7 linked regions of the Homo sapiens genome follow. The protein of the gene in region 5 purifies or fractionates together with the protein of the main gene of each other region. This does not show direct contact. Each region holds a gene or a part of one and is shown on either strand. Other genes may lie near its edges. The genes, in order: DDX51, IPO8, MYH8, CSNK2A2, ZSCAN5A, BCKDHA and ZMYM3.

Region 1 (2,613 bases), on a different chromosome or scaffold from region 5:
CCGAGTGTGCCCACGGTGCCCGCTCCTCCCACCTCCCCGAGTGTGCCCACGGTGCCCGCTCCTCCCACCTCCCCGAGTGTGCCCACGGTGCCCGCTCCTCCCACCTCCCGAGTGTGCCCCGGTGCCCGCTCCTCCCACCTCCCGAGTGTGCCCACGGTGCCCGCTCCTCCCACCTCCCCGAGTGTGCCCACGGTGCCCGCTACCTCCCACCTCCCGAGTGTGCCCACGGTGCCCGCTCCTCCCACCTCCCGAGTGTGCCCACGGTGCCCGCTCCTCCCACCTCCCCGAGTGTGCCCACGGTGCCCGCTCCTCCCACCTCCCGAGTGTGTGGCCAGGCCCACATCTTATGTCTGCGAACCCAGCAGCACTGAGCCACTATCAATCCCCGATAAATGGCAATCATCGTGAAGCAGCCTTGTGGTCTGGGGTAAATACCAAGGTTCTTGGTCTCATGGCCAAGGAGATCGAGGTCGCAGACAGACACACACACACACAGTGAGTTTGGAGCAGAAGTTTAATAAGCAAAAAGGAAGAAGAGCTCTCCGTTGCAGAGGGGGCCTGAGCGGGTTGCTAAGTTGTAGTAAAGATGTCAAGGTTTCTTTTTTTTCTGTCGCCAGGCTGCAGTGCAGTGGGCTGATCTTGGCCCACTGCAACCTCCACCTCCCGGGCAAGTGATTCTCCTGCCTCAGCCTCTTGAGTAGTTGGGACTCCAGGCACACGCCACCACGCTCAGCTAAGTTTTGTATTTTTAGTAGAGATGGGGTTTCACCATGTTGGCCAGGATGGTCTCGATCTCCTGACCTCAGGTGATGCGCCTGCCTCAGCCTCCCAAAGTGCTGGGATTACAGGTGTGAGCCACCGTGCCCGGCCTGTCAAGGTTTTTACAAATGGGCTAGTGACGAGGGGTTAGAGGAGGGATGTCTTGTCCTCCCAGGGCCCAGGGTTTTAGCTGGGACAAGGTGTGCTATTTGTATAGAGAGTTTCTGTCAGACTCAGTCTGTGCTGCTCTGTGACACTTTTCTGCGAGGGTCTCTGGGTCTGCTCCCAGACATCTTCTTGGGGTTACAGGCACCCCTCAGTCTGCTTTTAGCTTCCCTTAGTGCACCTAAGGGGACGGGAATGTGCTTATTAGGGTCCACTGTTTTACTGGGGCCCATTGTGGAAGTGTGAAGTTTGGTGATCACCCAGGAGACACCCCCCGCACTCCTGTGCCCGAGCTGTCTCATCTGTGATTCACAGTCTGCTCTTTCTGGCTGCTTGTCGTGAGAAGTGATTTTGAACCCCGAGGTTAGAAAGGGAGCTATTTTTGAGCTGCTTTTTGTTAAAAGGCAAATTTTCTGCTGGGGACTGGCTTTACCCCGTCTACCTAAATCATTTCTTTCTGCCTCCTGTAACAGTCGCCTTTTGTGTTCTGCTGGCATTTGTTTGAACACAGTCCACAGGTTCAGTGGTTGCATCTCTAATCAGCTGCCAGTCCCCATCCCAGACATTCTTTGCATCTAAGCTGAGGTCTGAACTGAGTGGGGTGGGCTGGTGTTTCCATCCTCACAACTCCAGTGAGCCGGGTGTGGCCGTGGCCTGCGTCTCCCTGGCGGTTAGTGATGTTGGCATCATCCACCTTTTTCAAACAAAGCACTGGACTGAGAGAATTCACACACTGTATCCACCCAGTCCATGGTTTTTAGTAAAAGGTTTATAGAGGTGAGCAGCCATCACCACACACAACCTAAGAACATTTTCATCATCCCCAAAACAAACCCACACACTGGCCACTGTGTCCCCAGCCCCAACCCCCACCAACTCCCGGCCCCGGCACCCTTCAATCTCTGGCTGTGCCTGGGACACTCCCTATAGCCGGAGCCTTCCTTCAGTTAGCGTCAGGTTCCGGGTTCATCCACGGGGTGCCTATGCTGGTGCCTCACTCCTTTTTCTCTCCTGGTGTGGATTTCCCACGTTTTATTCTCCATTCATCAGCTGACGGACATGTGGTTTCTAGTTTTTGGCTACTGTGAACAGTGCTGCTGAGAGATTTGTGTACGTTTCTGTGTGGATGTAGGTTTCATTGATCTGGGGTGTACAAGGTGCATAGGAGAGGAAGTGCTGGGTCATGAGTGACTCTGTGTTTAACGCCCCAAGGCTTTGCCCAGCTGTCTCCACGTGACCTTCCCACCAGCAATATGTGAGGTGTCCACTGAACAGTCACAAGGTTCACAAATCTGGGGAGGAGAGCTTTTTTTTTGACGGAGTCTCACTCTGTTGCCCAGGCTGGAGTGCAGTGGCGCAGTCTCCGCTCACTGCAAGCTCCGCCTCCCGGGTTCACGCCATTCTCCTGCCTCAGCCTCCCGAGTAGCTGGGACTATAGGTGCCCGCCACCACGCCCGGCTAGTTGTTTTTTTTTTTTTTTTGTATTTTTAGTAGAGACGGGGTTTCACCATGTTAGCAATGATGGTCTCTATCTCCTGACCTTGTGATCCACCTGCCTCGGCCTCCCAAAGTGCTGGGATTACAGGCATTTGCCACCGCGCCCGGCAATTTTTTTTTTTGAGACGGAGTTTTGCTCTTGTTGCCCAGGCTGGAGTGCAGTGGCGCAATCTCAGCTCACTGCAACCTCCA
Region 2 (3,500 bases), on a different chromosome or scaffold from region 5:
ACCATAAAACAAATAATCTATATTAATGAGATTTAAAATAATTTATTTGATTAATAATTTTCTAAATATCCTCATTGGCTTGTTTTTATTCTGTAAATTTTCCATTTCCATTTTCTACTAGGTTACTGGTCTTATGTATCTGAGGATGGCCTCTGTACACTGTGTACATTATGCCTATTATGCATATGTGGCAAATATTTTCTCCCCCCGAATCATTTATGAGTCCTGTAACTGTAATTATACTGTTCTTTGTTGTATAAAATTGGCAAATTACTTACAAAGTAAAAAGTCACCCTCTTACGGCAGCAATTTCATTCTAGGGATTGTGAATAACTAGTAGGTTGTTAGCCACAATTTTTAAGCAATGTATGCCTGAAACACTTCATTCTTTGCTATAAAAATGCTTGCCCATTTATGCCTAAAGGATGAACAATATACACAGATACTCCACATATTACTTTTGCAAGGATAACATACAGGCTCACCCTGCTACTTCTCAATGATGAAAGCTGCTAGGATTGGGTGATAGGTGTTTCATTATTTTAATTTCTATCATTTCATGTATGTATGTTTGGGGATTTCTATCATAAGGAATAAACAAAAAAATTTTTAAAAGAACCTAGACCAATCTTGGGCAAATATCAAAACAGGAAGAAATGAAGAAAGAGTTTAGAAAAAAAAATATCAGAAGATGTGGGGAAGTAAAGACATACTTATCAGAGCTTGTGTAAAAAACTGATATTCATCCACACTATTGTCAAGGTCAAGTGGAGTACTGAACCCCTCAAGCGCGGTTTCTTCCAATACTTCTTCATCCCAGTCATCATCTTCCTCCTCCTCATCTTCACCTCTTCCATTATTTGACTGCATTGCTTGAGCAGTTACATTTGTCTCCTCTTCATCACTTGAAATCTCCTCTGTGAACCCATTAATTATTTAAAAGGAATCAAAACACATAAGGACAAAATATAAAACTTCACGACAAAAACCAAAGACTATAAAACTACACTCTGGAAAGGAAAAAATCTTCCACAAAATTTTAATAAAAATAAATCTTATCCCTGGTCTAAAGAGGAGAGTCAAAAAATAAAAATAAAAAATAAAATAAATAAACCTTATCTTTACTGTAGAGTTTGCTAAGTTGAGAATGTCCTTATCCTCCTCACTGAAAACAAGTTCCCTAAACCTGTTATCCAGATGAACATTACTACTGTTAGGCTATGCAAGTTCATTAATACAAGAATATTATTCAATTGCAGATTTCAAAATTACCTTTGTTTAAAAAAAAAGTGACTGTACGGTCAGTGCATGTGTTTTAAACAATGACTTCCTATTGAGAATTCAGTCCTCTTAATTAACTGAGTTGATTATAAAGTGCTTAGAAATGCCCAAATGAGATCATTTCTGCTAGTAGAAACAGTAAAAATACAGATCCAGCCATCCCACTTCAGGATATATATCTAAAATATTTTAAATCAATACGTAGAACAGATGTCAGCAGCCCTGTGTTCATCGCAGCATTATTCACAATAGCCAAGTTACAGAATCAACCTAAGTGTCCATCAACAACGGATGAATAAAGAAAATGTGGATTCTTTAAAATGAAACACTATTCAGCTTTTAAAAAGGTAATTCTGTCAATTCCAACAACACTGATGAACTTGGACATTATGATAAGTGAAATAAGCCAGGCACAGAAAGACACATACTGCCTGTTCTCACTTATACATAGAATCTAAAACAATCAAACTCATAGAAGTAGAGAATAGAATGGTGGTTACCAGAGGCTAGAGGTGGTGGGAATATGGGAATGTTGGTAAAAGGGTACAAAGTCTCAGGAAGAATTAGGTTTTTGTTTTGTTTTGTTTTGTTTTGGTATCTATTGTACAGCATGGTGAATACAGTTAATAGTATATGTACATTTCAAAATTGGCAAGATTGTAAATTTCAAATGTTCCCACCATTAAAAAGGGTATTTAAGGTGATGGATATATTAGTTTGATTTAATCATTCCGCATTATATTCACAAATCATAACATCACTTTGTACTCCATAAATATATAATTTGCTAATTTATAATAAAAAGAAATAGCAAAAATGTAAAGAAAAATAGCTACATGTCGCTTGAAAAGTTAAAAACTTGAACTACATTATGTATCACCATGGATTCTGTATCTATTTTCAGTGTCAATCTGTTCCTAGCAGTTAGATTGTAACTGAAATACTGGAACAGGAAGGCAGTAAATGCAGAACAAAAATCAAGATAAGAGAGAAATCCTGGAGTAAACCCAAACCAGGTAATATTAACCTAAAACTAGTTCTATTAGACACACCATATTGAAGCAGGTAGATTGAACTAGGTAGTTTTAGGAATAAGGCACTTAACCAGAGTTTGGACCAAATACACGAAAAAATGCATGGCAAATTATAACTATTAATACAAAAAGACTGAGAAATACCTCCACTAGTTAATCATTCCATACTTTAGTAGGAAGTACAAGAAAGTGTGGGATATTACCAGAAAATTTTCCCTCAAGCCATACAGTATAAGCCAATAAAGAGTTGCCAAAACAAGAAATTAGAGATCATAACATACTGGAAAAAATAAAAGAATTCTACAACTGTTGACACACAGTTAGCTAAAAACAAAACAAAACAAAACAAAAATCACACATGCAACACTTCTAATAAAGAAGCATTTCTTCAAAAGACCTACACAGATTTCAGAAAAACAAATTAGAAGCTGTATTTTGTGCTGTGGAGGGGAGAAAAAGGGTAGTTTATAATCTCTGGTATATGAACAAACTGGGATGATGCCAGTTAAAAGTGTTTTAAATCTATCCATGCTAAAATCACAGAATTTAGCATCAAAAATAGAGCTGTATGTTTACCAGGAAGAGTTCTGATTTTTCTCAGCTAACAAAGTATCTGTTTTTAACCAGGAGAGGAAAAAATCCACCTGGAATAGGAGAATGCTACTTCCTAGTCTCTAGCAAGTAGCTCCGCAATCTCATCATTAAACAAAACAAAGGTCTAATATTCAACTCTAACAATCTTATTCTGATTCTCAAGTATATCCACTTCATTTATGTACTTTACCTTAATTTATATTTAAATCACAAATATGGACGTCTCTCAAATGTAATTTTTGCTAATGAGTCACCTAAGAACCATTCCAGAAAAAGAAAAAAAAGACACTCTCTACTAATCTGTGGTACTAACACTTCAGCTCTTAATGTAATGATTCATTTAACTCATGGCTACTGCCTTGATGAGGCTGTTAGCACAAACAAGAAAGTTAGATACTAGATTGCTAACTTACAGTCAAGACCATTTGATTGTTATAAATGTGTTTCCTAATGTGTAACAGCATCTATTAGGCTCCATAAAAAAAACCGCTGAGTATATTAGGTGTCAGAAGGTGCATAAATCTAAATTTATATAGCATGATACAATTAATAGCAAGTCAACCAAGCCCAAAATATTTGTTATATGTGTAG
Region 3 (3,500 bases), on a different chromosome or scaffold from region 5:
TCCTAATAAGTGAAAAACAGAAAGGCCTTAAGTGTTCTGAAGAGGATTTGAAGATCCCAGGAGATGAACTGGGAGATTGTACTGGTGACAGGAACAGAAGATGACATATGCCTGTCATTTGAATGCATCTGATTATGGTTAGGTCATTTGCTTAGGGTGAGAGAGAATTATCAGGAGACATAGATTCTTGTTCTATTTCTACCATTAACTGGTTACTGTGTCATGTGTGAGTCACTAATGTCTGTCATTTGTGGAGCAGTTTCCATATGCTCTATCAGGACTTGACATCTGTTATTTCATTTGATCTTCACAGTAACTCAGTGAGGTGGGTAGTTTCATTCTTATTTTGAAGAAGGAACAGAGGTTCTGAGAGGTTAAGTAATTTGCTTAAAATCAGGCAGCTAGTAAATGACAAAACTAAGACTCAACCTCAGGCCTGTCTGGTGCCCAAGTCTGTTCACTTTCTTTCATATCATACTGTAATGCCTAGGCATCTGTTTGTTCTTCTACATAACATTTTCTTAAAAATAATATGTTCTATGTGTATTTAATTCAGTTACCTTTGTGCGGTCAGCTGTATAATTTGTTAAGAGAAAAAAAGGATCGTTTAACAAGGTGTTTGGGAAATGGAAGACAGGTACTTTCCCTGCTTCATCTGGGAGGCGAATGTGGACCCGTTTACCTTCAGGATTCCTTGGGTGTTCCTGTAGTTCCTTAAACTCTCTGCAGCTAAGCGATTGGCATGGTTCAGCTGGATTTCCATTTCATTCAGATCTCCTTCCATTTTCTTCTTGACTCTCAGAGCATCATTTCTGCTTCTAATCTCTGCATCCAGCGTGCTCTGCATTGTCTCCACGACTCTAGTGTGGTTTCTCTTCAGCTGGTCAATTTCCTCATCCTTTTCTGCGATTTTTCTATCAACTTCAGACTTGACTTGGTTTAACTCAAGCTGGATACGCAGAATCTTTCCTTCTTCATGTTCAAGAGATGCCTTAACAAAACAGTGATCAATTAATAATGGAGAAGAACCTGAGTATTTGGAGTATATTCCCTCGTGAGCCAAACTCTTGTCAATATCAGTTTGTCTAATTTTACAAAGTATAATACAGTAGTTCTGGGAATCTTCTAGGTAAATCATTATTTTGTTTATTTAGTGACAGATTATATAGGGCAGCTCTGCAATAAAGGTGCATTGTGCTATACAAATATTGTTCATATTAATACTAATAAAATTATATAATTAAATTCATGTATAGTAAATATAAATTCTCAATCTGTTTTAGAAATTAAAATGTTCTTGTGTGATATACTAGCCCCTGACCTAGAAACTATCAGTTTTAAAATGTTAATTTTTTTTCCGATTACATAATAAATGTTCATTGTATAATGTGGAGGCAATACATAAAACCAAAAGAAAACCTAGCTGTTGTTCCCCCAGTAAAGAGAAAAACATTTTAATATGGTGTATTTTTTCTAGTCTTTTTTCCTACTTCTATATATTTTTACATAATCAAAATTATATTGTATATGCAAATTTGTGTCTTTAAAATTACTGTCTACCGTAAAATATTTTTCCAAAATAATCATATTTCATGGCTATATAAAATTTCATCACATGACTGTTCTGTGATTTGCTTACTTTTGTTCTTAGATTGCACATCTTTGCCTTAAAGCTTTACTCCATTTGACATCTTTTGGGTGATAAAATCTTAGAAATAGAATTGATAGGTCAGAGTATTTACATTTTTAAGGATTTTGATAACTATTGCCAAGTTGTCCTTCATAAAGATCCTGTGAGTTTAAATTATCACTAGCCCCACTTTTTTTTAACTGATGTTTGTCTTTGTTTTTCCATAACATAATACAAGGTAATATGTACCTCTGCTTCCTCTAAAGCAGCCTGAATTTCACATTTCTCTTGTTCTACTTGCTTCTTTATTTTCTCCAATTCATGAATTTGCTTTCCTCCCTCTGCAATCTGCTCAGTGAGGTCAGAAATCTCCTCTGTGGTTGAACAGACAGGAGAGAAATGGTCAGAAAGATGGCAACATGGAAAGGTCCTCCCAGGGATATATGGAGTAGGGAGGACTGTGAGGACTCACGTTGCAAGTTCTTATTTTCTCTTCTTAGCGTTTCGAGTTGATCCAGGGATTCCTCATAGACATTCTTCACCTTGAACAGCTCAGTGCTAAGAGAACGTGACTCCTTCTGGGAGGCCTCAAGTTCAGCCTGAGTTTCCTCATACTTCTGCTTCCATTCTGATAGGACCTGAAAAGCAATAAATCATGAGTTGATCCAAGGAGAAAGGAAGACCGAGTAAAACACTCTTAAAGTTTAAGCAGTCTGGGCCACCTTGTCAAAGTTCCTTTGCTTCTTATCAAGGGCTGCACAGGCTGCATTAGACCTTTCCACATCAAGCATGAGGTCTTCAACTTCATTCTGGAGCCGCTGCTTCGTCTTCTCAAGGGAAGCACATTTGGCGTTCACAGCTTCTACATGTTCCTCAGCTTCTTGCAGGCGCTGGGCCAACTTTTTCCTGAAAAGTTAGCCAGGCAGTCAGGAGAATGGCCAAGACCAGAAGCAAAGTGATAACCTCCTTGGTCCCTTTTCACAGTCCTATTTCTTTTCTTTTCTTTTGTTTCTTTTTTTGAGAGACGGAGTCTCGCTCTGTCGCCCATGCTGGAGTGCAGTGGTGCAATCTCGGTCACTGCGACCTCCCGGGTTCAAGCGATTCTCCTGCCTCAGTTTCCCAAGTAGCTGGGATTACAGATGTGCACCACCATGCCCAGCTAATTTTTGTATATATGTATATTTTTTTTTAAATAGAGACAGGGTTTCACCATATGTTGGCCAAGCTGGTCTTGAACTCCTGACCTCAGGTGATCCACCCGCCTTGGCCTCCCAAAGTGCTGGGATTACAGGTGTGAGCCACTGTGCCTGGCCACGGTCCTGTTTCTATACTGGCAAATGGCATATGATTTTCAAAACGGTGGCAGCCAGAACTGCTTTCTAGATTGGTAAACTGTATGGAAAGATCCAAAGTGGTGAAGAGTTGGAAACAAGTCCTGGGAATATTATAGAATTCTAAGAGGCTGCTGTTAGTGCTGCCATTGTATGCGCCTTACTACCTAAGTAACTCAGGATTTTCAAGACTTCTGATTGAGTATGACTGTGGAAAATTATTAGCCAGGACAATCTTGTTGTTTGACTTATATATCCATTCTCACTCCAATATGGATTTGAGGTTAACTAGATATTTTACTGGCCAGAAATATACTGAGCATATTCATTTGCTTTCTCAGACTTTTCATTCCATTTTATGTGTTTTTTTCCTAGAGAATAGCCAGTTTCTTCTAATCATTATAGTTGGACAATCTCTCCTGGGAAAGAAACTGATACATAAATCAGGACAATTCGTGCAGTTTAAACAAAGGCAGGTTTTTTTTCCCTCCTGAATTCTCTACATTCTCAGTTCATTTTCAGTTGTGTGCCAAGTACAC
Region 4 (3,500 bases), on a different chromosome or scaffold from region 5:
CCCACCTCGGCCTACCAAAGGGCTGGGATTACAGGCGTGAGGCACCGCGCCTAGCCTATGTTACATGTATTTTAACACAATTTTTTTTTAAAGGCAAGGCATAGAGCAGACCCTTTGAATCTCATTAGGAGAACACTACAACCCTTTCTACTATTGGTTCTGCCTCTAACATCACTCGCATGACCCAAATGTAATATTGTTATTACTACTATACTTTATTGATCTCTCAGGCCAGGCACTGTTTTAAGCACATTTAACCGTCTTAGATGAGCACTATTAACAGTTTTACTTGAGGAAGGACACCAAGGCACAGAGAACTTAAGTAACTGTTTGACGTCACAGAGCGTCTACAGTTGGAGCTAACACCTGAAACCAGGCAGACCACTTCCTAGGCCATACTCTCTCAGGAAAGAAAAGCATTTTGTAGATTACTAAAACATGACAATCAATCTCTCTACCCATCTATCTATAGTTTATCTGACTTTCCTAACAATCCTGTGACTTAAGCAGGAAATGTATGCTTATTTCATAGATGAGAAAACAGTCAAGTGGGTATCAATGAAGAAACTAGTTCTGGAACTCAAGCCTTCTGCCCTCTCATTTACAGCACTTCCTACACTACACCACCCTGATGATGAGATGGTAGATCCTGAAATTAAACTCTAGAAACTATCTGGAGCCCTGCTTTATACATGAAAATGGGCACACTATATCAAGATATTCTTTTCACATGTGGTTTGCTCTCAAATAAACTCATATATTAAAGGGATAAAACTATTAAACTATTAATCCCGAAATCTGCCAAGTGATCATGCTGAGACTTGGAGGAACTCTATGGGTTAAAAAAAAAAAAAACCATAAAAACACTATTTACTGAGGCTTCAAGAGAATAAAGCAGCATTTCATTGAAGCATTAAACATGCTGCTGTGGATACTAATCATAGAGAACGCCTGCCTGGGTCCCTATAGCCCTCGAGGACTCTTGGATTCCACACTTCAACTAGCAACTTACCAAAGTCAAACACTTCCTTTGAGAAAAATAACTCCAAAAATCATTAGAAACGAATTAACTTCATTTGACTCCTGGTGAGTGTTCCTCAATTCTTCCAGTACAGATCAGGACATCACAAAGTCAAACATCCAGCTAATGTCCTAATTATGCTCCTCGCATCTACCAAGACTTCATGACAGGTACACAAGGTCCTACACCGAGTGCTTCCACCCCCTGACTACATGACGCTGAGCATATACATCCTTTCTCTGGGTCTTGGTTGATTTGTAAAAAGGGCCTGGGTTCTAATGGTTTCTAGGTTTCTAAGTGCCCGCATTCTGCGATTCTGTTTGACACAGGTTAACTACACTCTTAATCTGTGACTCCCCAGTACAATGCTGGAAACGGCCTAGTTCACATATAATTTTTAACATTATTTTTAATGTTAGCAATACTTTAGTGATACTGTTTGCACTACTTTTATACCATGAGACATTAGTGAAAATCAGAATGTACCAAAAACTTAGATAAATACCACTAATGTGTTGTTTCAGGAAGATGTCTTCATACACATGCCTAAATTTAGGAGGGTAAAAAACCTACCACAGGAGAAATAAAGAGGAAATAAAGAGGAAAGCACCATTCTGATATAATATAAAGATCACCAGCTCACGATGAAGCTACTAACAAAGATGTATAACCAATGCCCATCCTTTTAACACTACCTACTGACAACACAGAACTTAAAAAATATCTGCAAGTATGCTAAACATGCTTAAAGAGCAAAATTTTAATACCACCACCCTTTGTTTAAAGCTAAATAATTAATATCTAGGGGAAAATGGATAGTCAATCTGTTTATAAAATAAGACCTCTAAGAGGAAGCCTTATATGGGAATTTCCAAGTCATTTTGCACTGGTTCAAAATGCTGTTTTTTAAAAATAGTGTTGCTCTTAACTTTTATTCAAGAAATAGCAGTTTAATTTGAAAGATCCCAAGGACCCCAAGAAGTACTGAAATCTACACACACAGGCAGTATTCATAAAATGCTAAAAGTTGTCAAAGGTGGCCACTTTTACTTCTGTGTACACTTTTCTAAGAGGTACTACAAAGGAAATGAAGAACTGATTTTTCAAAATCAAAAGATGAAACTTTTGGCACTAATGTAGCTTTCTGCCCTGCCATATAAACGCTTACCATTTTCCTCCTCCTTTTTCTCTTTTCTCCTCAAAACAATTTGTCAAAAAAAGATACAACCTCTCTATTGATTGGAAAGTTTTAAGATTTTAGCCACAGAATACCACTTGGGGATAGACAGTAAAATTTTGCTCACCAGTTTCTAAATTCCTAAAACTTTTTAGCAGCTCATTTTTGATCAATACCTGGAAATCCACTAATGCAAATTAAATGATATAAAATTCCTCTGTAGTCACTCATCATCCACCCATTCTCACATATATTGCAAAGAACTGATACGAAACGTTACTGACTACAAAAGTAAGACCACTTGTCCTCAAGAAAGCCACCCTCTATCTTGGTCACTATGTGCATAATACAATCCTGCAGCTAAAATACAGCAGGCTTTTACAAAAAGGAAGGCTGTTCTAGATTCTTCCAAGTTATGAGGAGCTGGTAGTCTGTTAAGGACCTAATTTCCTATGACCAAGCACCACAATAGTAGCTATTAGTCATAACTTCAACTTATTTGAATAAAGAAACACAACTTTGGCTAAAGACCTTGTTACCCTGTTCTTTTTAAAAAGTAATACTTTTAATTCACAAAACAACAAAACCACAATAATGCCATTAGTGATATATTACCCCATCCTTCAGACAGGAACAAAATCTGGATAGAAATGCCACCGGGCTTTAAAAAACATAAAGAAGTGAGTCTAATTTTCACTAGTGGTTTAGGCTGCACTGTGAAAACAAACAACATCAAGAAGAAACAAGAAACATTTCATTAACTAGGGGCCTCCCAAGTCTGATTCCAGGACACTGGTACCTGTTTCTGTGCTCAACGTTCAGATCCTACAATCCAGTGCTAAAATGAACAGTAAGAGATATGAAGAAATAGGAAACAGGAGTTCTGGCTAATGGTCATTCAACATAATGACATTAGGTAAGTTTCTTTGTGCCTAGGTCTCCCATTTGTAAAGATAACCTGCAGCAGCTTACATACTGGGTTTCCTAACATACGCCAAGAATCTTTAAAGTAGGGGGAAAGCTAGAGCCTATAAAGCTCTTTGGATGATGAAGCAGCAATGCGATGCTCTCCTAAATGAACATGCTGGTATTTATACACACACCTGAATGCTGTTCCTTTAAAAAAAAAAAAGCACCACAGAAAATCATACACTTATTCTAAAAATGCTGCCATAGCACAAAAGTTCAGACATTTTTCTGGAATTGCTTTAGAGTCAGCAATTCATTCTTCTGAATATACAGCAGTGGAATATGGATATTCCTAATTTCAATTTACGTTTTGCTTATTTCTTAGATTTGAAG
Region 5 (3,500 bases):
TCACTTGTACTTCGGAGTTCAAGACCAGCCTGGGCAACATATCAAAATTCCATCTCTACAAAAACCACAAAAATTAGCCAAGTTGGTGGCGTGCTCCTGTAGTCTCGGCTGCTCGGGAGGCTTAGATGGGAGGATTGCTTGAGCCTGGAAGGTCGCGGCTGCAGTGAGCGGTGATTATGCCACTGAACCTCAGCCTGCGTGACAGAGGGAGACGCCATCTCAAAAAAAAAAAAAAAGAAAGAAAGAAAAAAGAAAACGAAAACTCTACAGGATACCCAATAAAAGCTGAGTTTCAGATAAATAAATAATTTAGAACATGCTGATACTAAAGAAAATTGTTTATCTGAAACTCAAATTTCATCAGGCATTATGTATTTTATATGGCCACCCTCCTTGGACAACTGTACTTTACAGCAAAACAGTGGGTAACCCCATGTCAATCAGGAAACTCAGTTTTCCGTTATACAATATTGAAAACTAATAAGATGATCGTTTATTGGAAGAACAGCAACACAAACCAAAATAAACCTATAAGAAAACAATGGACATAATGAAACAGAAAACAAAGCTCAGTGGGGAGGACACATATTTACTCAAACATCCTGGCAATTCATATCTAGGGCACTCCCTCTGTGTGTCAGACGCCCTTGCATGTGTCAAATGTCATCTGATAACATTGATGAAAAATATCATTCACTTCTTCTTGGTGCAGAAGGCATAGACCGGATTATGCAATCACTGAGAAGTAGCTTCTGGATGTGTTTTCTGGTGGCGTCTTAACAATTTCAGCCGACTGAAGGCTCTTGGACACTTGGAACATTTGTAGGGTTTCTCTCCGGAGTGGATGCGCTGGTGCTCCTTCAGGCTCCCCCTGTAGGTGAAAACTTTCTTGCAGTCTTTACATTCGAAGGGCTTCTCCCCTGTGTGGCTTCTCTTGTGACACTTCAAGTAGGACTTCTGGGTGAACTGCTTCTGGCAGACGTCACACGTGTAGGGCCTCTCGCCAGTGTGGGTTCGCTGGTGAAATTGGAGGCTAATAAGCTGCATGAAGCGCTTCCCACAGAGATTACATTGAAAGAGTCTCTCGCCTGTGTGTGATCTCTTGTGGATGACTAGCTTGGAATTACACGTAAACCTCTTCTCGCACACGTCACATGCAAAGGGCGGCAGTGCCTTGGCTTCTTGGCCATCCGGGTGACTGACTGGGCTCGCAGGGCCTGGGGAATGAATTGAATTCATCCCAGCTTGTCCCGGGGATTCTCTGTTGCCCACAGGTGTGGCTTCTCCTTGAGGCTCTTCTTGGGAAATGGAGGAGGCATCTGGTTTGCTTCTTTTGGGACTGCTCAGATTCAGAGCGTCTCCTCTGTTCCCGCTGTGAGTCGAAGCTTCTCTCTCCACAACGCAGGCAGAAGGTGTGTCAGCATCCACATTTTCCACAGAGGCTATTTTTGGGGGGTCCTTCCCCTCCTTTGCTCTCACCAGATCTGCTGGAAGAAGGGATTCCACACACACAGTTAATAAAGCGCATTTTCAATACACCAAACTCATTGCAACCAAACACTGATGTTGGCTGACAACTTCCGCTCAAGCTCAAGCCTAAGACATTGGACTGTAGGTCTCTGGAAAGTAGAGGATGGGGAGGCTTTGACAGCTGAGTGCCAACTCCCCCAGGGGATGATAATGCTGGGCCCCCAGCCCCGCACCCCAGAAGAGAGGGACTAACCCCTGTGGATCCAAGTCTTCATACTCACTGGGACTCTTTGGAAGCTGAGGCTCTGGGGATGTCAGTCCTGGGTTCTCTTCCCTGTTTTCCTTCAGATCCTTCTCCAAGGTCTGCTTGGGTCTCAGAGACTTTGGGTCACCTGTTACGTCAATACTCTTGTGTAGCAGAAAGTCCTCTCCCTGAAGAGGAAAAACCAAGAGTAATGACTGCTGTGTCCAAACTGGTGGAAGCAGGGACACATCTGTCCCCTTCTGATTGGATGCAACAACTCTTCTAATGACACAGGTGTGGAAATACGTGCAGACTTCCCCTGGACCACCCCATCACCCCACGTAAACATCACCATCTCATTTCTGTGTCTGTCCCTAATCTGCACCCTCCATATTCCAAATCAGCTCCTGTGCCTGGTGGTTTTCACTGTTTGGTTCTCTGAGCATATTTCTCCCCGCCGTGCCAACGTCTCCCTGCACCTGACACTGGAAGGAGCATGACTCTAGTCGAGGCCCCTCAGCTGTGGCACCACTGGCATTGGGGCTGCATCACCCTGCTGGAGGGGGCGCTCCTGTGCAGAGCAGAGACCCCACCTCCACCCTCTAGATGCTATTAACACCCCACCATCCCCTACAATGACACACAAAAGCATCTCCAGACATGGCCATGTGTCCGGAAAGGCAGAATCACCCCAGTTGAGAAACACTCCTCAAATTAAGAAATTGACAATCTGTAGAAAATGGTTTCCTTGCTGAATTATTACATTAAATGTCTTTGAGGAAACTGGCTACGGGGAAGGAATCTTCATTCATCTGTGCAAACTGCCTCCCTCATTTCACTGAGATCATTTCTTATGCCCCACCCTAAATGCTAAAAGCTCTCATGGTGGAGAGAAAAGTAGATGAGGCTTCCCTCTCTGTGATGGCTCAGGAATGAATGTTTGGGGATGTATCATGTCCATGGGGAATGGCTCTAATCTTGTCCTGTGTCAAATCTCTCAATCAGTCCAGCGGCCACACGATTTCCTCCTGTTCCTTCTCCCACCTCTGCCCAGACACCAAGGCCTCACACACTCACCTGCCTCCTGGACAATGCAGGGACCCTGGGCAGGATCTGCAGCTCTCGGTGGGCCTGGCCTTCCCCTGGACGCATCTGGTTCACCGAGGAGGCCCGTTGGCTGGACACGTCTTTCAGATCATCTCTGACACTGGAGGGGGCTTCAGCCATCTCGATATCTGAGTCCTGCACAATATATTCCTTTCCGTGGAAGGTGACCACAGACTGTAGAGAGAAAAAAGACAATCAGACTCACCATGAGAACCTGAAAGTAGCTCTCATATTCCCTGGGTCCTGCCATAATGCTCACACTTTACTGTAATTAATGTTCAAATCTGCCTTCCCAATAGAGAGTCAGCTCTGTGGACACAGCAATCCTGTCTGAATTTTTTCCTCTCTAGACTCCAGCACCTGCCTGCGCCTGGAATATTCTAGTTAAGTACATAAACATGGGTCCTTTAGATGAAATAGTCTCTAAACCAAAGAGAAGACAAGGAGAAATATTCTGGGTGAATCCAACTCAATTGGCCGATGGCAGCTCACCTTGTATTAGAACTTAGGGGCTCATTTGGGGACCTGGGGGCAGATCCCTGCATCTGATACCAACCACTTTCCCTGCTTCAGGATGGGACTCCTGGGCCCCCCTTCAGTTCACTCTAATGCCTCCTTCCCTACATTCCATCAGGCCTAATATTTCACCAATGTCTTTCTTTCATGTTGGCCTCACACA
Region 6 (3,685 bases), about 15 Mb from region 5:
GATGGGAGGGAGGAGGGCCCAGAAGCTGGACAACTTAAGCCACTCCTTGGCCTCCCCCAGCCAGGGGCCTGGGCAGGAAAGATGGGGTGGTGGACTGTTTTTGCCTACTTTTTGTTTTTGAAAAACATGCACTCCCCACTCTGAGGCCTGGGGTTGTTTTTGCATCTGTGGGGCCCTGGAGTGGTGGGGAGCAGGGCTTGGCCACACCCTGACCTTCATCCTGGACGCTCCCCTGCACCCCTGCTGGGCAGGGCTAGCTCCACTGGGCTCCCCATCACTCTGCTGGACAGCAGGCTTCTCCCATTCTGTGAGAGAGCAGGAGACCATCTCTGGAGGACCCCCCCACCCCCATCCTGTCTGCTGAAGTTAACCTTCCAGCTTGCGCAAGCTTCCGGGGGAAGTAGGTATCTCAAGAGCCTTGACCTTATTTATCTAAGGTGGAGAAGCTGGGGGTGGCCTCAAATCACCCCCAAACTCCAGGAAACAAAGACCAGAGGTGGTAGAGAGCCAGGCGCAGAGATGCAGTTTATTCGTGACCTCTGCTGGCCACTCGCACCTGCGCAAGTTCCACAGGCTGACCTGCCATGTCCACCCCATGCCCAGAGGGGCTTCTAGTCCTGAATGTGCCCTCACCCAGCCCCTGGGAGAAGGCACTGTAACAACAGGTGAAGAGGGGGCTGACGGAGCCTCAGCAACTGCTGCAGATGCTGTCCCCTGACAATGTAACAGCCGGGAGGAGCAGGGGTGAAGAGTGGCAGCCGCCCTGGCCGCTGAGTATTTTAGAGGGAGCTGACTGGGGAAGACAGTGGTGTGCTGTCAGGTCCCCCTGCTCCCCTTAGAGTGGGGCTACCTCTCGGGGTAGCTGAGGATGGGTGGGGGTGGGCTGAGCAGGTCTCACTTATCGAAGTGATCCAGTGGGTAGTGCTCCCCGTAGGTCTGCAGGTGGCGGGCCAGAGACTCCTGCTGCTTGCGGAGCTGGGCGGGCATCTCCTGATACACGTCTGAGAAGAGTAGGTTGGGGTTGGGTTTGGGCTTCCGCTCGGCCTGCTCAAAGGCCTCCATCACCTGTGGGGACATGGGGCAGTGGGCAGGCTAGCCGGCCTCCCATGCAGGACCCTGCTTCCTCCTGCGGGGCCTTGGCAAGGAATTAACCACTCCAAGCCTTTGTGTTCCCACCTCGACAATGGAAATGATTATCCTAGCAGAAGTGTAATGAAAACCCTCAAATCCCAGCAGGGATCAGGTGCTATCCAAGTGTGTGGAATCATTTAAGGCTTTCAGCAGCCCTAAGAGGTAGACAGCTAAGCAATGAGGAAACTGAGGCACAGAGAAGGGCAGGGACAGGACACACGGTGCTGCCCTATGCCGGGTGCTGCCCTCACCACTGGGCTGCACGGGCCCTGGGTCCTAATGACCGGGCCAGGGAGGGTGGCACACTGACTCTGGGCAGGGCATGTACACTCCACCACGGTTTGCCACCTAATCCTCAAACCAGCTTTTTTTTTTTTTTAAGAGATAGTCTTGCTCTGTTGCCCAGGCTGGAGTGCAGTGGCGCCATCTCCAATCACTGCAAGTTCCACCTCCCGGGTTCAAGCGATTCTTCTGCCTCACCTTCCTGAGTAGCTGGGACTACAGGCACGCACCACCACGCCTGGCTAATTTTTTTTTTTGAGATGGAGTCTTGCTCTCGTTGCCCAGGCTGGAGTGCAATGGTACGATCTCAGCTCACTGCAACCTCTACCTCCCAGGTTCAAGCAATTCTCCTGCCTCGGCCTCCCAAGTAGCTGGGATTACAGGCACCCGGCACCATGCCCGGCTAATTTTTGTATTTTTATTAGAGACGAGGTTTCACCATGTTGGCCAGGCTGGTCTCAAACTCCCGACCTCAGGTGATCTGTCCGCCTTGGCCTCCCAAAGTGCTGGGATTACAGGCGTGAGCCACTGCGCCCAGCCCTAATTTTTGTATTTTTAGTAGAGACAGGGCTTGACCATGTTTGGCCAGGCTGTTCTCAAGCTCCTGACCTCAAGTGATCTGCCACCTCGGCCTCCCAAAGTGCTGGGATTACAGGTGTGAGCCACCATGCCCAGTCTCAAACCAGTTTCTGAAATGGGCACCACCAGCATCCCCTTTCAAAGACAAGGAAGTGGAGGGCAACATGCCAAGGACACAGAGCCAGGACACACATGGCCCCAGCAGCCTGGCTCCACAGGCCACATCTGAGACATCACTGGGGTTATCCCTGAGCCTCCCAGTTCGGTGTTCCACAAATCCTTCCCAAGCTCTGCAGGCCGCAGCAGCCCCCAGCACACCCTCCCGGGCGGGGCACCCTCACCTTCCTGCGGGACTGCTTCCTCCAGGCCTTCTCCTGCTCCTCATCCCACCAGCCTTGGCTCAGCAGATAGTGCCGCAGCCGGGAGATGGGGTGGTCCTGTTTATCCCAGTAATTGACCTCATCCACCGAGCGGTACGCTGAACTGTCGTCACTGGTGCTGTGGTGCCCGATCCTGCACAGGGGCAAGGGGCCCCAGGTCAGTGTGGGCTCCCTGGAGTGGGGGTCAGGAGGGAGGATGGGGGATGAACTAGGGAAGGAGGAGTGGAAACGGAATAAAGGCAAGGGGGAGATGCAACATCAGGTGATAAGGCCATGTTTTGGAGACAGTGATCGATATGAGGAAGATGCTACGGTGGCTGTCAGTGCTGTGGGGGTGCTGACGGGGGGAGCGGCAGGCACCTGTAGGTCATGGCCTCGATGAGGAAGGGCTGGTTCTCTGCCACAGCCCGCCGTCGGGCCTCCTTTGTGGCGTTGTATACGGCAAACACATCATTACCATCCACGCGGATTGACATGATGCCATACCCGGGGCCTCGTGCTGCTGTGGGGACACAGAGAAGGCAGGTCAGGCCAGGGCTGAGATAAGGAACATGCACGAGGCCAAGGGGACGAGCAGGGAGAGGACAGAGAGCAAGGCTGAGTGCTCAGGACCTCAACTCCTGTGGCTGACCAAGTGCCAGACGCCACAGGACACAGGACGAGAACCAGGAAGGAGGGTAGGGGTGGCAGGAAGGTGGCAGGATTGGGGAGGGAAGGAGATGATCCCAGCGGGGTGGGGAGCAGCCAGCAGAGCCCATACCAATGCCATCGCCGCGATACTGCTCAGAGGTGGGCGTGGAGATGGCGTAGCCATTGTTCCGGCAGAAGAAGATGATGGGGCACTCAAGTGTGGCAGCGAAGTTGAAGCCGGCATGGGCGTCCCCCTCACTGGCTGCCCCCTCGCCGAAGTAACAGATGACGACCCTGTTGGCATTGGCCCGCTTGGCTGCGTACGCCGCCCCCACCGCTGCAGGGGATGAGAGGGTGGTGAGCAGGGGCGGAGACTCACATGCACTCACACTCATTCACACTCACATGACCCACGGCTCAAGCGTGGCTCAGGCCAGCAGTCACCAGGCTTCAAGGGGAAAGGAAACACCTCAGCTCCTGATGCCCCCCAGCATCTGCCCACCCAGGTCTCCTCTTGCTCAGCTGAAAGCAACTCCACCCTTCCAACTGCTCAGGCTGAAGAGTCCAGTATCATCTCCAAGCCAAACTTCCCGCCATTCTCCACATCTACTCCACCTTCAGAACCTAACCCCTCTTACCTCCTCCTCTGCACCACCCTGGTCAAGCCCAAGTTACTGAGCAGC
Region 7 (2,509 bases), on a different chromosome or scaffold from region 5:
AGGAATCCTCCCACCTTGGCCTCCCAAAGTACTGGGATTACAGACGCAAGCCACTGCACCCAGCCTCCCTGTAAACCTGAAGTGAGTTATTTATTCCTCTGTCCTCCCATAGCACTATTCATTTTATTCTGCCTGTATTATGACTAATTGTGTACTATTTGGTCTCCCCTATAGCCTGGGAGCCTGCTGGGGATTGGATCCTGGTCTAACCAGTCTTTTTGTATTTTTTGAAGCACGTAATCTAGGTCTTTAAACATAATAGGTCCTTAATACATAGCTAGTGAGTGAGTATTTTTTTTTCCTTAAGTGTTTGGAAACTTGTTATAAAAAAAAAACAAAAACAAAAACAAAAAAAACAAAAAAAACACCACATTCCCAGTAGATCCAAAGTAAGACAGTAAAGTAAGAACGATTCTCAAACACCTGACTTGTTTACACTTGGAGAGATTTGAAGTTATCCAGTGTTGCTCCTCTATATCCATCACCCAGAAAAGACAAAAGACAATTTTAACTCTTTATTTGAAACAAACAATTTCAGAGACAGAAGGTTAGTCGTGACAACAGCTTCTCACTACAACACAAGGGTGGGCATGGCTCACTGAAGGGACAGGCCAGGCGCCTCAGAACAATATATACAATTTAAACAGTGGCTAACTGGTGACAGTTATAAAAACACAAAAAGGAGCCTGGGAAACAGCAAAGTCAACAGGGAAAGAAGTGGGTACCCCCTTTGCCAGAAGCTAATTGTTTTCTGGGACCTCCAATGCAAGATGGGGAAGAGAGAAGATGTAGGCAGTGGCGGCAGGCCCTGCGCCCACAGCTCCTCGCCTGTCCTTTGACCACAGATCCCATCCTGCATGACTCAAGGTCCCATAGGCTTGGCCTAGCTCTTATGATAGGGGAACAATAGAGGGGAACCCAGCCTCAACCCAAGTCAGAAGGTAGTTTTTGCCTTGGGAGGTCTGTCCATTGAACTAAAGGGAGGCAGTTACAGAGGGGGCTAAGCATGTTGACACCATGGCTCATGGCAACCTAAGATGGCAGAGAGACAAACACAGAAACCAAGGGGACAGGAGTCTGCACAACAGGAGTCTGCTCCCCGTACTTAGTCATTCTCTGCCTCTGAGGAAAAAAAGGCATTTGGAAGATTTTAAAAACGGCAGCACCAAGGATTGGTGCTTGCCGAGGGGGTGAGGGATATGCGGTGGTGAGATGGTGCCAACAACCAATTATTTCATAGGAGGGGAAGAGTGTCTAAGCTCTGTGTTTTATGTAAATGGTCCCCTCATCGCTTTCATTGTTTATTTCTTACCTTTCAGATAAGACCTTTTGGCATGGTGCTGGGGAAGAGTAGAGAAGGGAGTGGGCACAGGGCAGAGAAGGCAGCTGGGTTTTTCCCTAGGTCATGCCTAGGAACAAGAGGCTCTACCTATGCGGGATGGGTCAGGAAACCCAAAGCCAACAGGATCACCAGAGCTATTAACACTCCACCCAGAGTCTGGACCCAGAAGGAGGGGTTTACTCTGAAGCATAAAGAAAACGGGCAAGCTGGCTTTTGCCCATCACTGGGAGACCAGCCCCTGAGTACAGAAGACCAGGGCCCCATGGTTGTCAAGTGGTACGGAAGAAGATAAAAGCCAGGGTTCCTAGAGAAGGCAGGGAATGGGTGAGCGGAAAGGAGCAGTCAGGGCCCTTCAGAATGAGTAGCATTGGTTCCTGGGCCTGTCACCCTGAGGGACATGGCCACAGGACAGACATTGATGTGAAAGATGGATATGGATGGCACACGAGCTCAGTCCAGGTCTTCCTCCCCAGGACGACCCAGTTCCTCATAAATCTCGCGCACAGCCAGGATGCGATTGAGCATGCTCTCCAACATGCTGCGGTCCATGGGGATCACAGAATACCAGAGAGGTGACTCGGCGATGCAGGACCGTTCAGGTTGCAGGTAGAACACATCGTTGCGAGTCCGGAGGCTTTCAGGACTGCAACATCGGGGGTGGGAGTGGGAGTGGGGGTGGCAGGACAGAAGATCAGTACCAAGGCAAAGTAGATCCCTCGGGTCCCCATGCTAACGCTTTTCCTGCCAACCCACCAACTCACCATTTTGAGAGATAGAATTCATAGAACTTGACAGGGCAGCGGAGGGGATTCATGCGGTTCTCACGCTGCTCTAAGATAGGGGCTTCATCTTCTCTCTTCCGTTTTCCAGGACCCGTGTCTATAGGGGAGGGAAATGATTCAGACTCATTAAGAACACAGGCTCCATGAGCCACATCCAAGAGCACAGTTCAGGGCACAGGGAGAAGGCGTCACGACACAAATTACAGTCTCATCAAGATGGAGAGGTGGAAGAAGAGGTCAGTCTCCCTCTCCCACGCCAACCCAACATCCTGTCGGGCTGTTGTTATGCAACCCTCCCCAGTTCCCACTGCCAAAGACTCTCTTTAAAATCTCCCCCAAGTTGCTATCTTGAAGAGGTGATCTCAGAAGTTATTCAAAAGACCTG

Evidence for each region.
Region 1: the proteins of ZSCAN5A (region 5) and DDX51 purify together in Homo sapiens (co-immunoprecipitation; one large-scale study listed by IntAct). This does not show direct contact.
Region 2: the proteins of ZSCAN5A (region 5) and IPO8 purify together in Homo sapiens (affinity purification with mass spectrometry; 3 studies listed by BioGRID and IntAct, with this or other methods). This does not show direct contact.
Region 3: the proteins of ZSCAN5A (region 5) and MYH8 purify together in Homo sapiens (affinity purification with mass spectrometry; one large-scale study listed by BioGRID and IntAct). This does not show direct contact.
Region 4: the proteins of ZSCAN5A (region 5) and CSNK2A2 purify together in Homo sapiens (affinity purification with mass spectrometry; 2 studies listed by BioGRID and IntAct, with this or other methods). This does not show direct contact.
Region 6: the proteins of ZSCAN5A (region 5) and BCKDHA purify together in Homo sapiens (affinity purification with mass spectrometry; one large-scale study listed by BioGRID and IntAct). This does not show direct contact.
Region 7: the proteins of ZSCAN5A (region 5) and ZMYM3 purify together in Homo sapiens (co-immunoprecipitation; 2 studies listed by BioGRID and IntAct, with this or other methods). This does not show direct contact.

Annotation. Positions count from the first base shown.
Region 1 is NC_000012.12:132,136,094-132,138,706, forward strand, and holds the end of DDX51 (ATP-dependent RNA helicase DDX51), read right to left. Parts: 3' UTR 501-2,613; downstream 1-500. UniProt on the Homo sapiens protein: ATP-binding RNA helicase involved in the biogenesis of 60S ribosomal subunits.
Region 2 is NC_000012.12:30,633,370-30,636,869, forward strand, and holds part of IPO8 (importin-8), read right to left. Parts: intron 918-3,500; coding exon 714-917; intron 1-713. UniProt on the Homo sapiens protein: Involved in nuclear protein import, either by acting as autonomous nuclear transport receptor or as an adapter-like protein in association with the importin-beta subunit KPNB1.
Region 3 is NC_000017.11:10,394,451-10,397,950, forward strand, and holds part of MYH8 (myosin-8), read right to left. Parts: intron 2,537-3,500; coding exon 2,353-2,536; intron 2,269-2,352; coding exon 2,103-2,268; intron 2,005-2,102; coding exon 1,880-2,004; intron 992-1,879; coding exon 683-991; intron 3-682; coding exon 1-2. UniProt on the Homo sapiens protein: Muscle contraction.
Region 4 is NC_000016.10:58,191,607-58,195,106, forward strand, and holds part of CSNK2A2 (casein kinase II subunit alpha'), read right to left. Parts: intron 1-3,500.
Region 5 is NC_000019.10:56,220,840-56,224,339, forward strand, and holds the end of ZSCAN5A (zinc finger and SCAN domain-containing protein 5A), read right to left. Parts: intron 2,996-3,500; coding exon 2,792-2,995; intron 1,903-2,791; coding exon 1,752-1,902; intron 1,488-1,751; coding exon 736-1,487; 3' UTR 464-735; downstream 1-463.
Region 6 is NC_000019.10:41,421,818-41,425,502, reverse strand, and holds the end of BCKDHA (2-oxoisovalerate dehydrogenase subunit alpha, mitochondrial isoform 1 precursor), read right to left. Parts: intron 3,340-3,685; coding exon 3,133-3,339; intron 2,875-3,132; coding exon 2,733-2,874; intron 2,506-2,732; coding exon 2,334-2,505; intron 1,066-2,333; coding exon 895-1,065; 3' UTR 501-894; downstream 1-500. UniProt on the Homo sapiens protein: Together with BCKDHB forms the heterotetrameric E1 subunit of the mitochondrial branched-chain alpha-ketoacid dehydrogenase (BCKD) complex.
Region 7 is NC_000023.11:71,239,124-71,241,632, forward strand, and holds the end of ZMYM3 (zinc finger MYM-type protein 3), read right to left. Parts: intron 2,222-2,509; coding exon 2,104-2,221; intron 1,986-2,103; coding exon 1,793-1,985; 3' UTR 501-1,792; downstream 1-500. UniProt on the Homo sapiens protein: Plays a role in the regulation of cell morphology and cytoskeletal organization.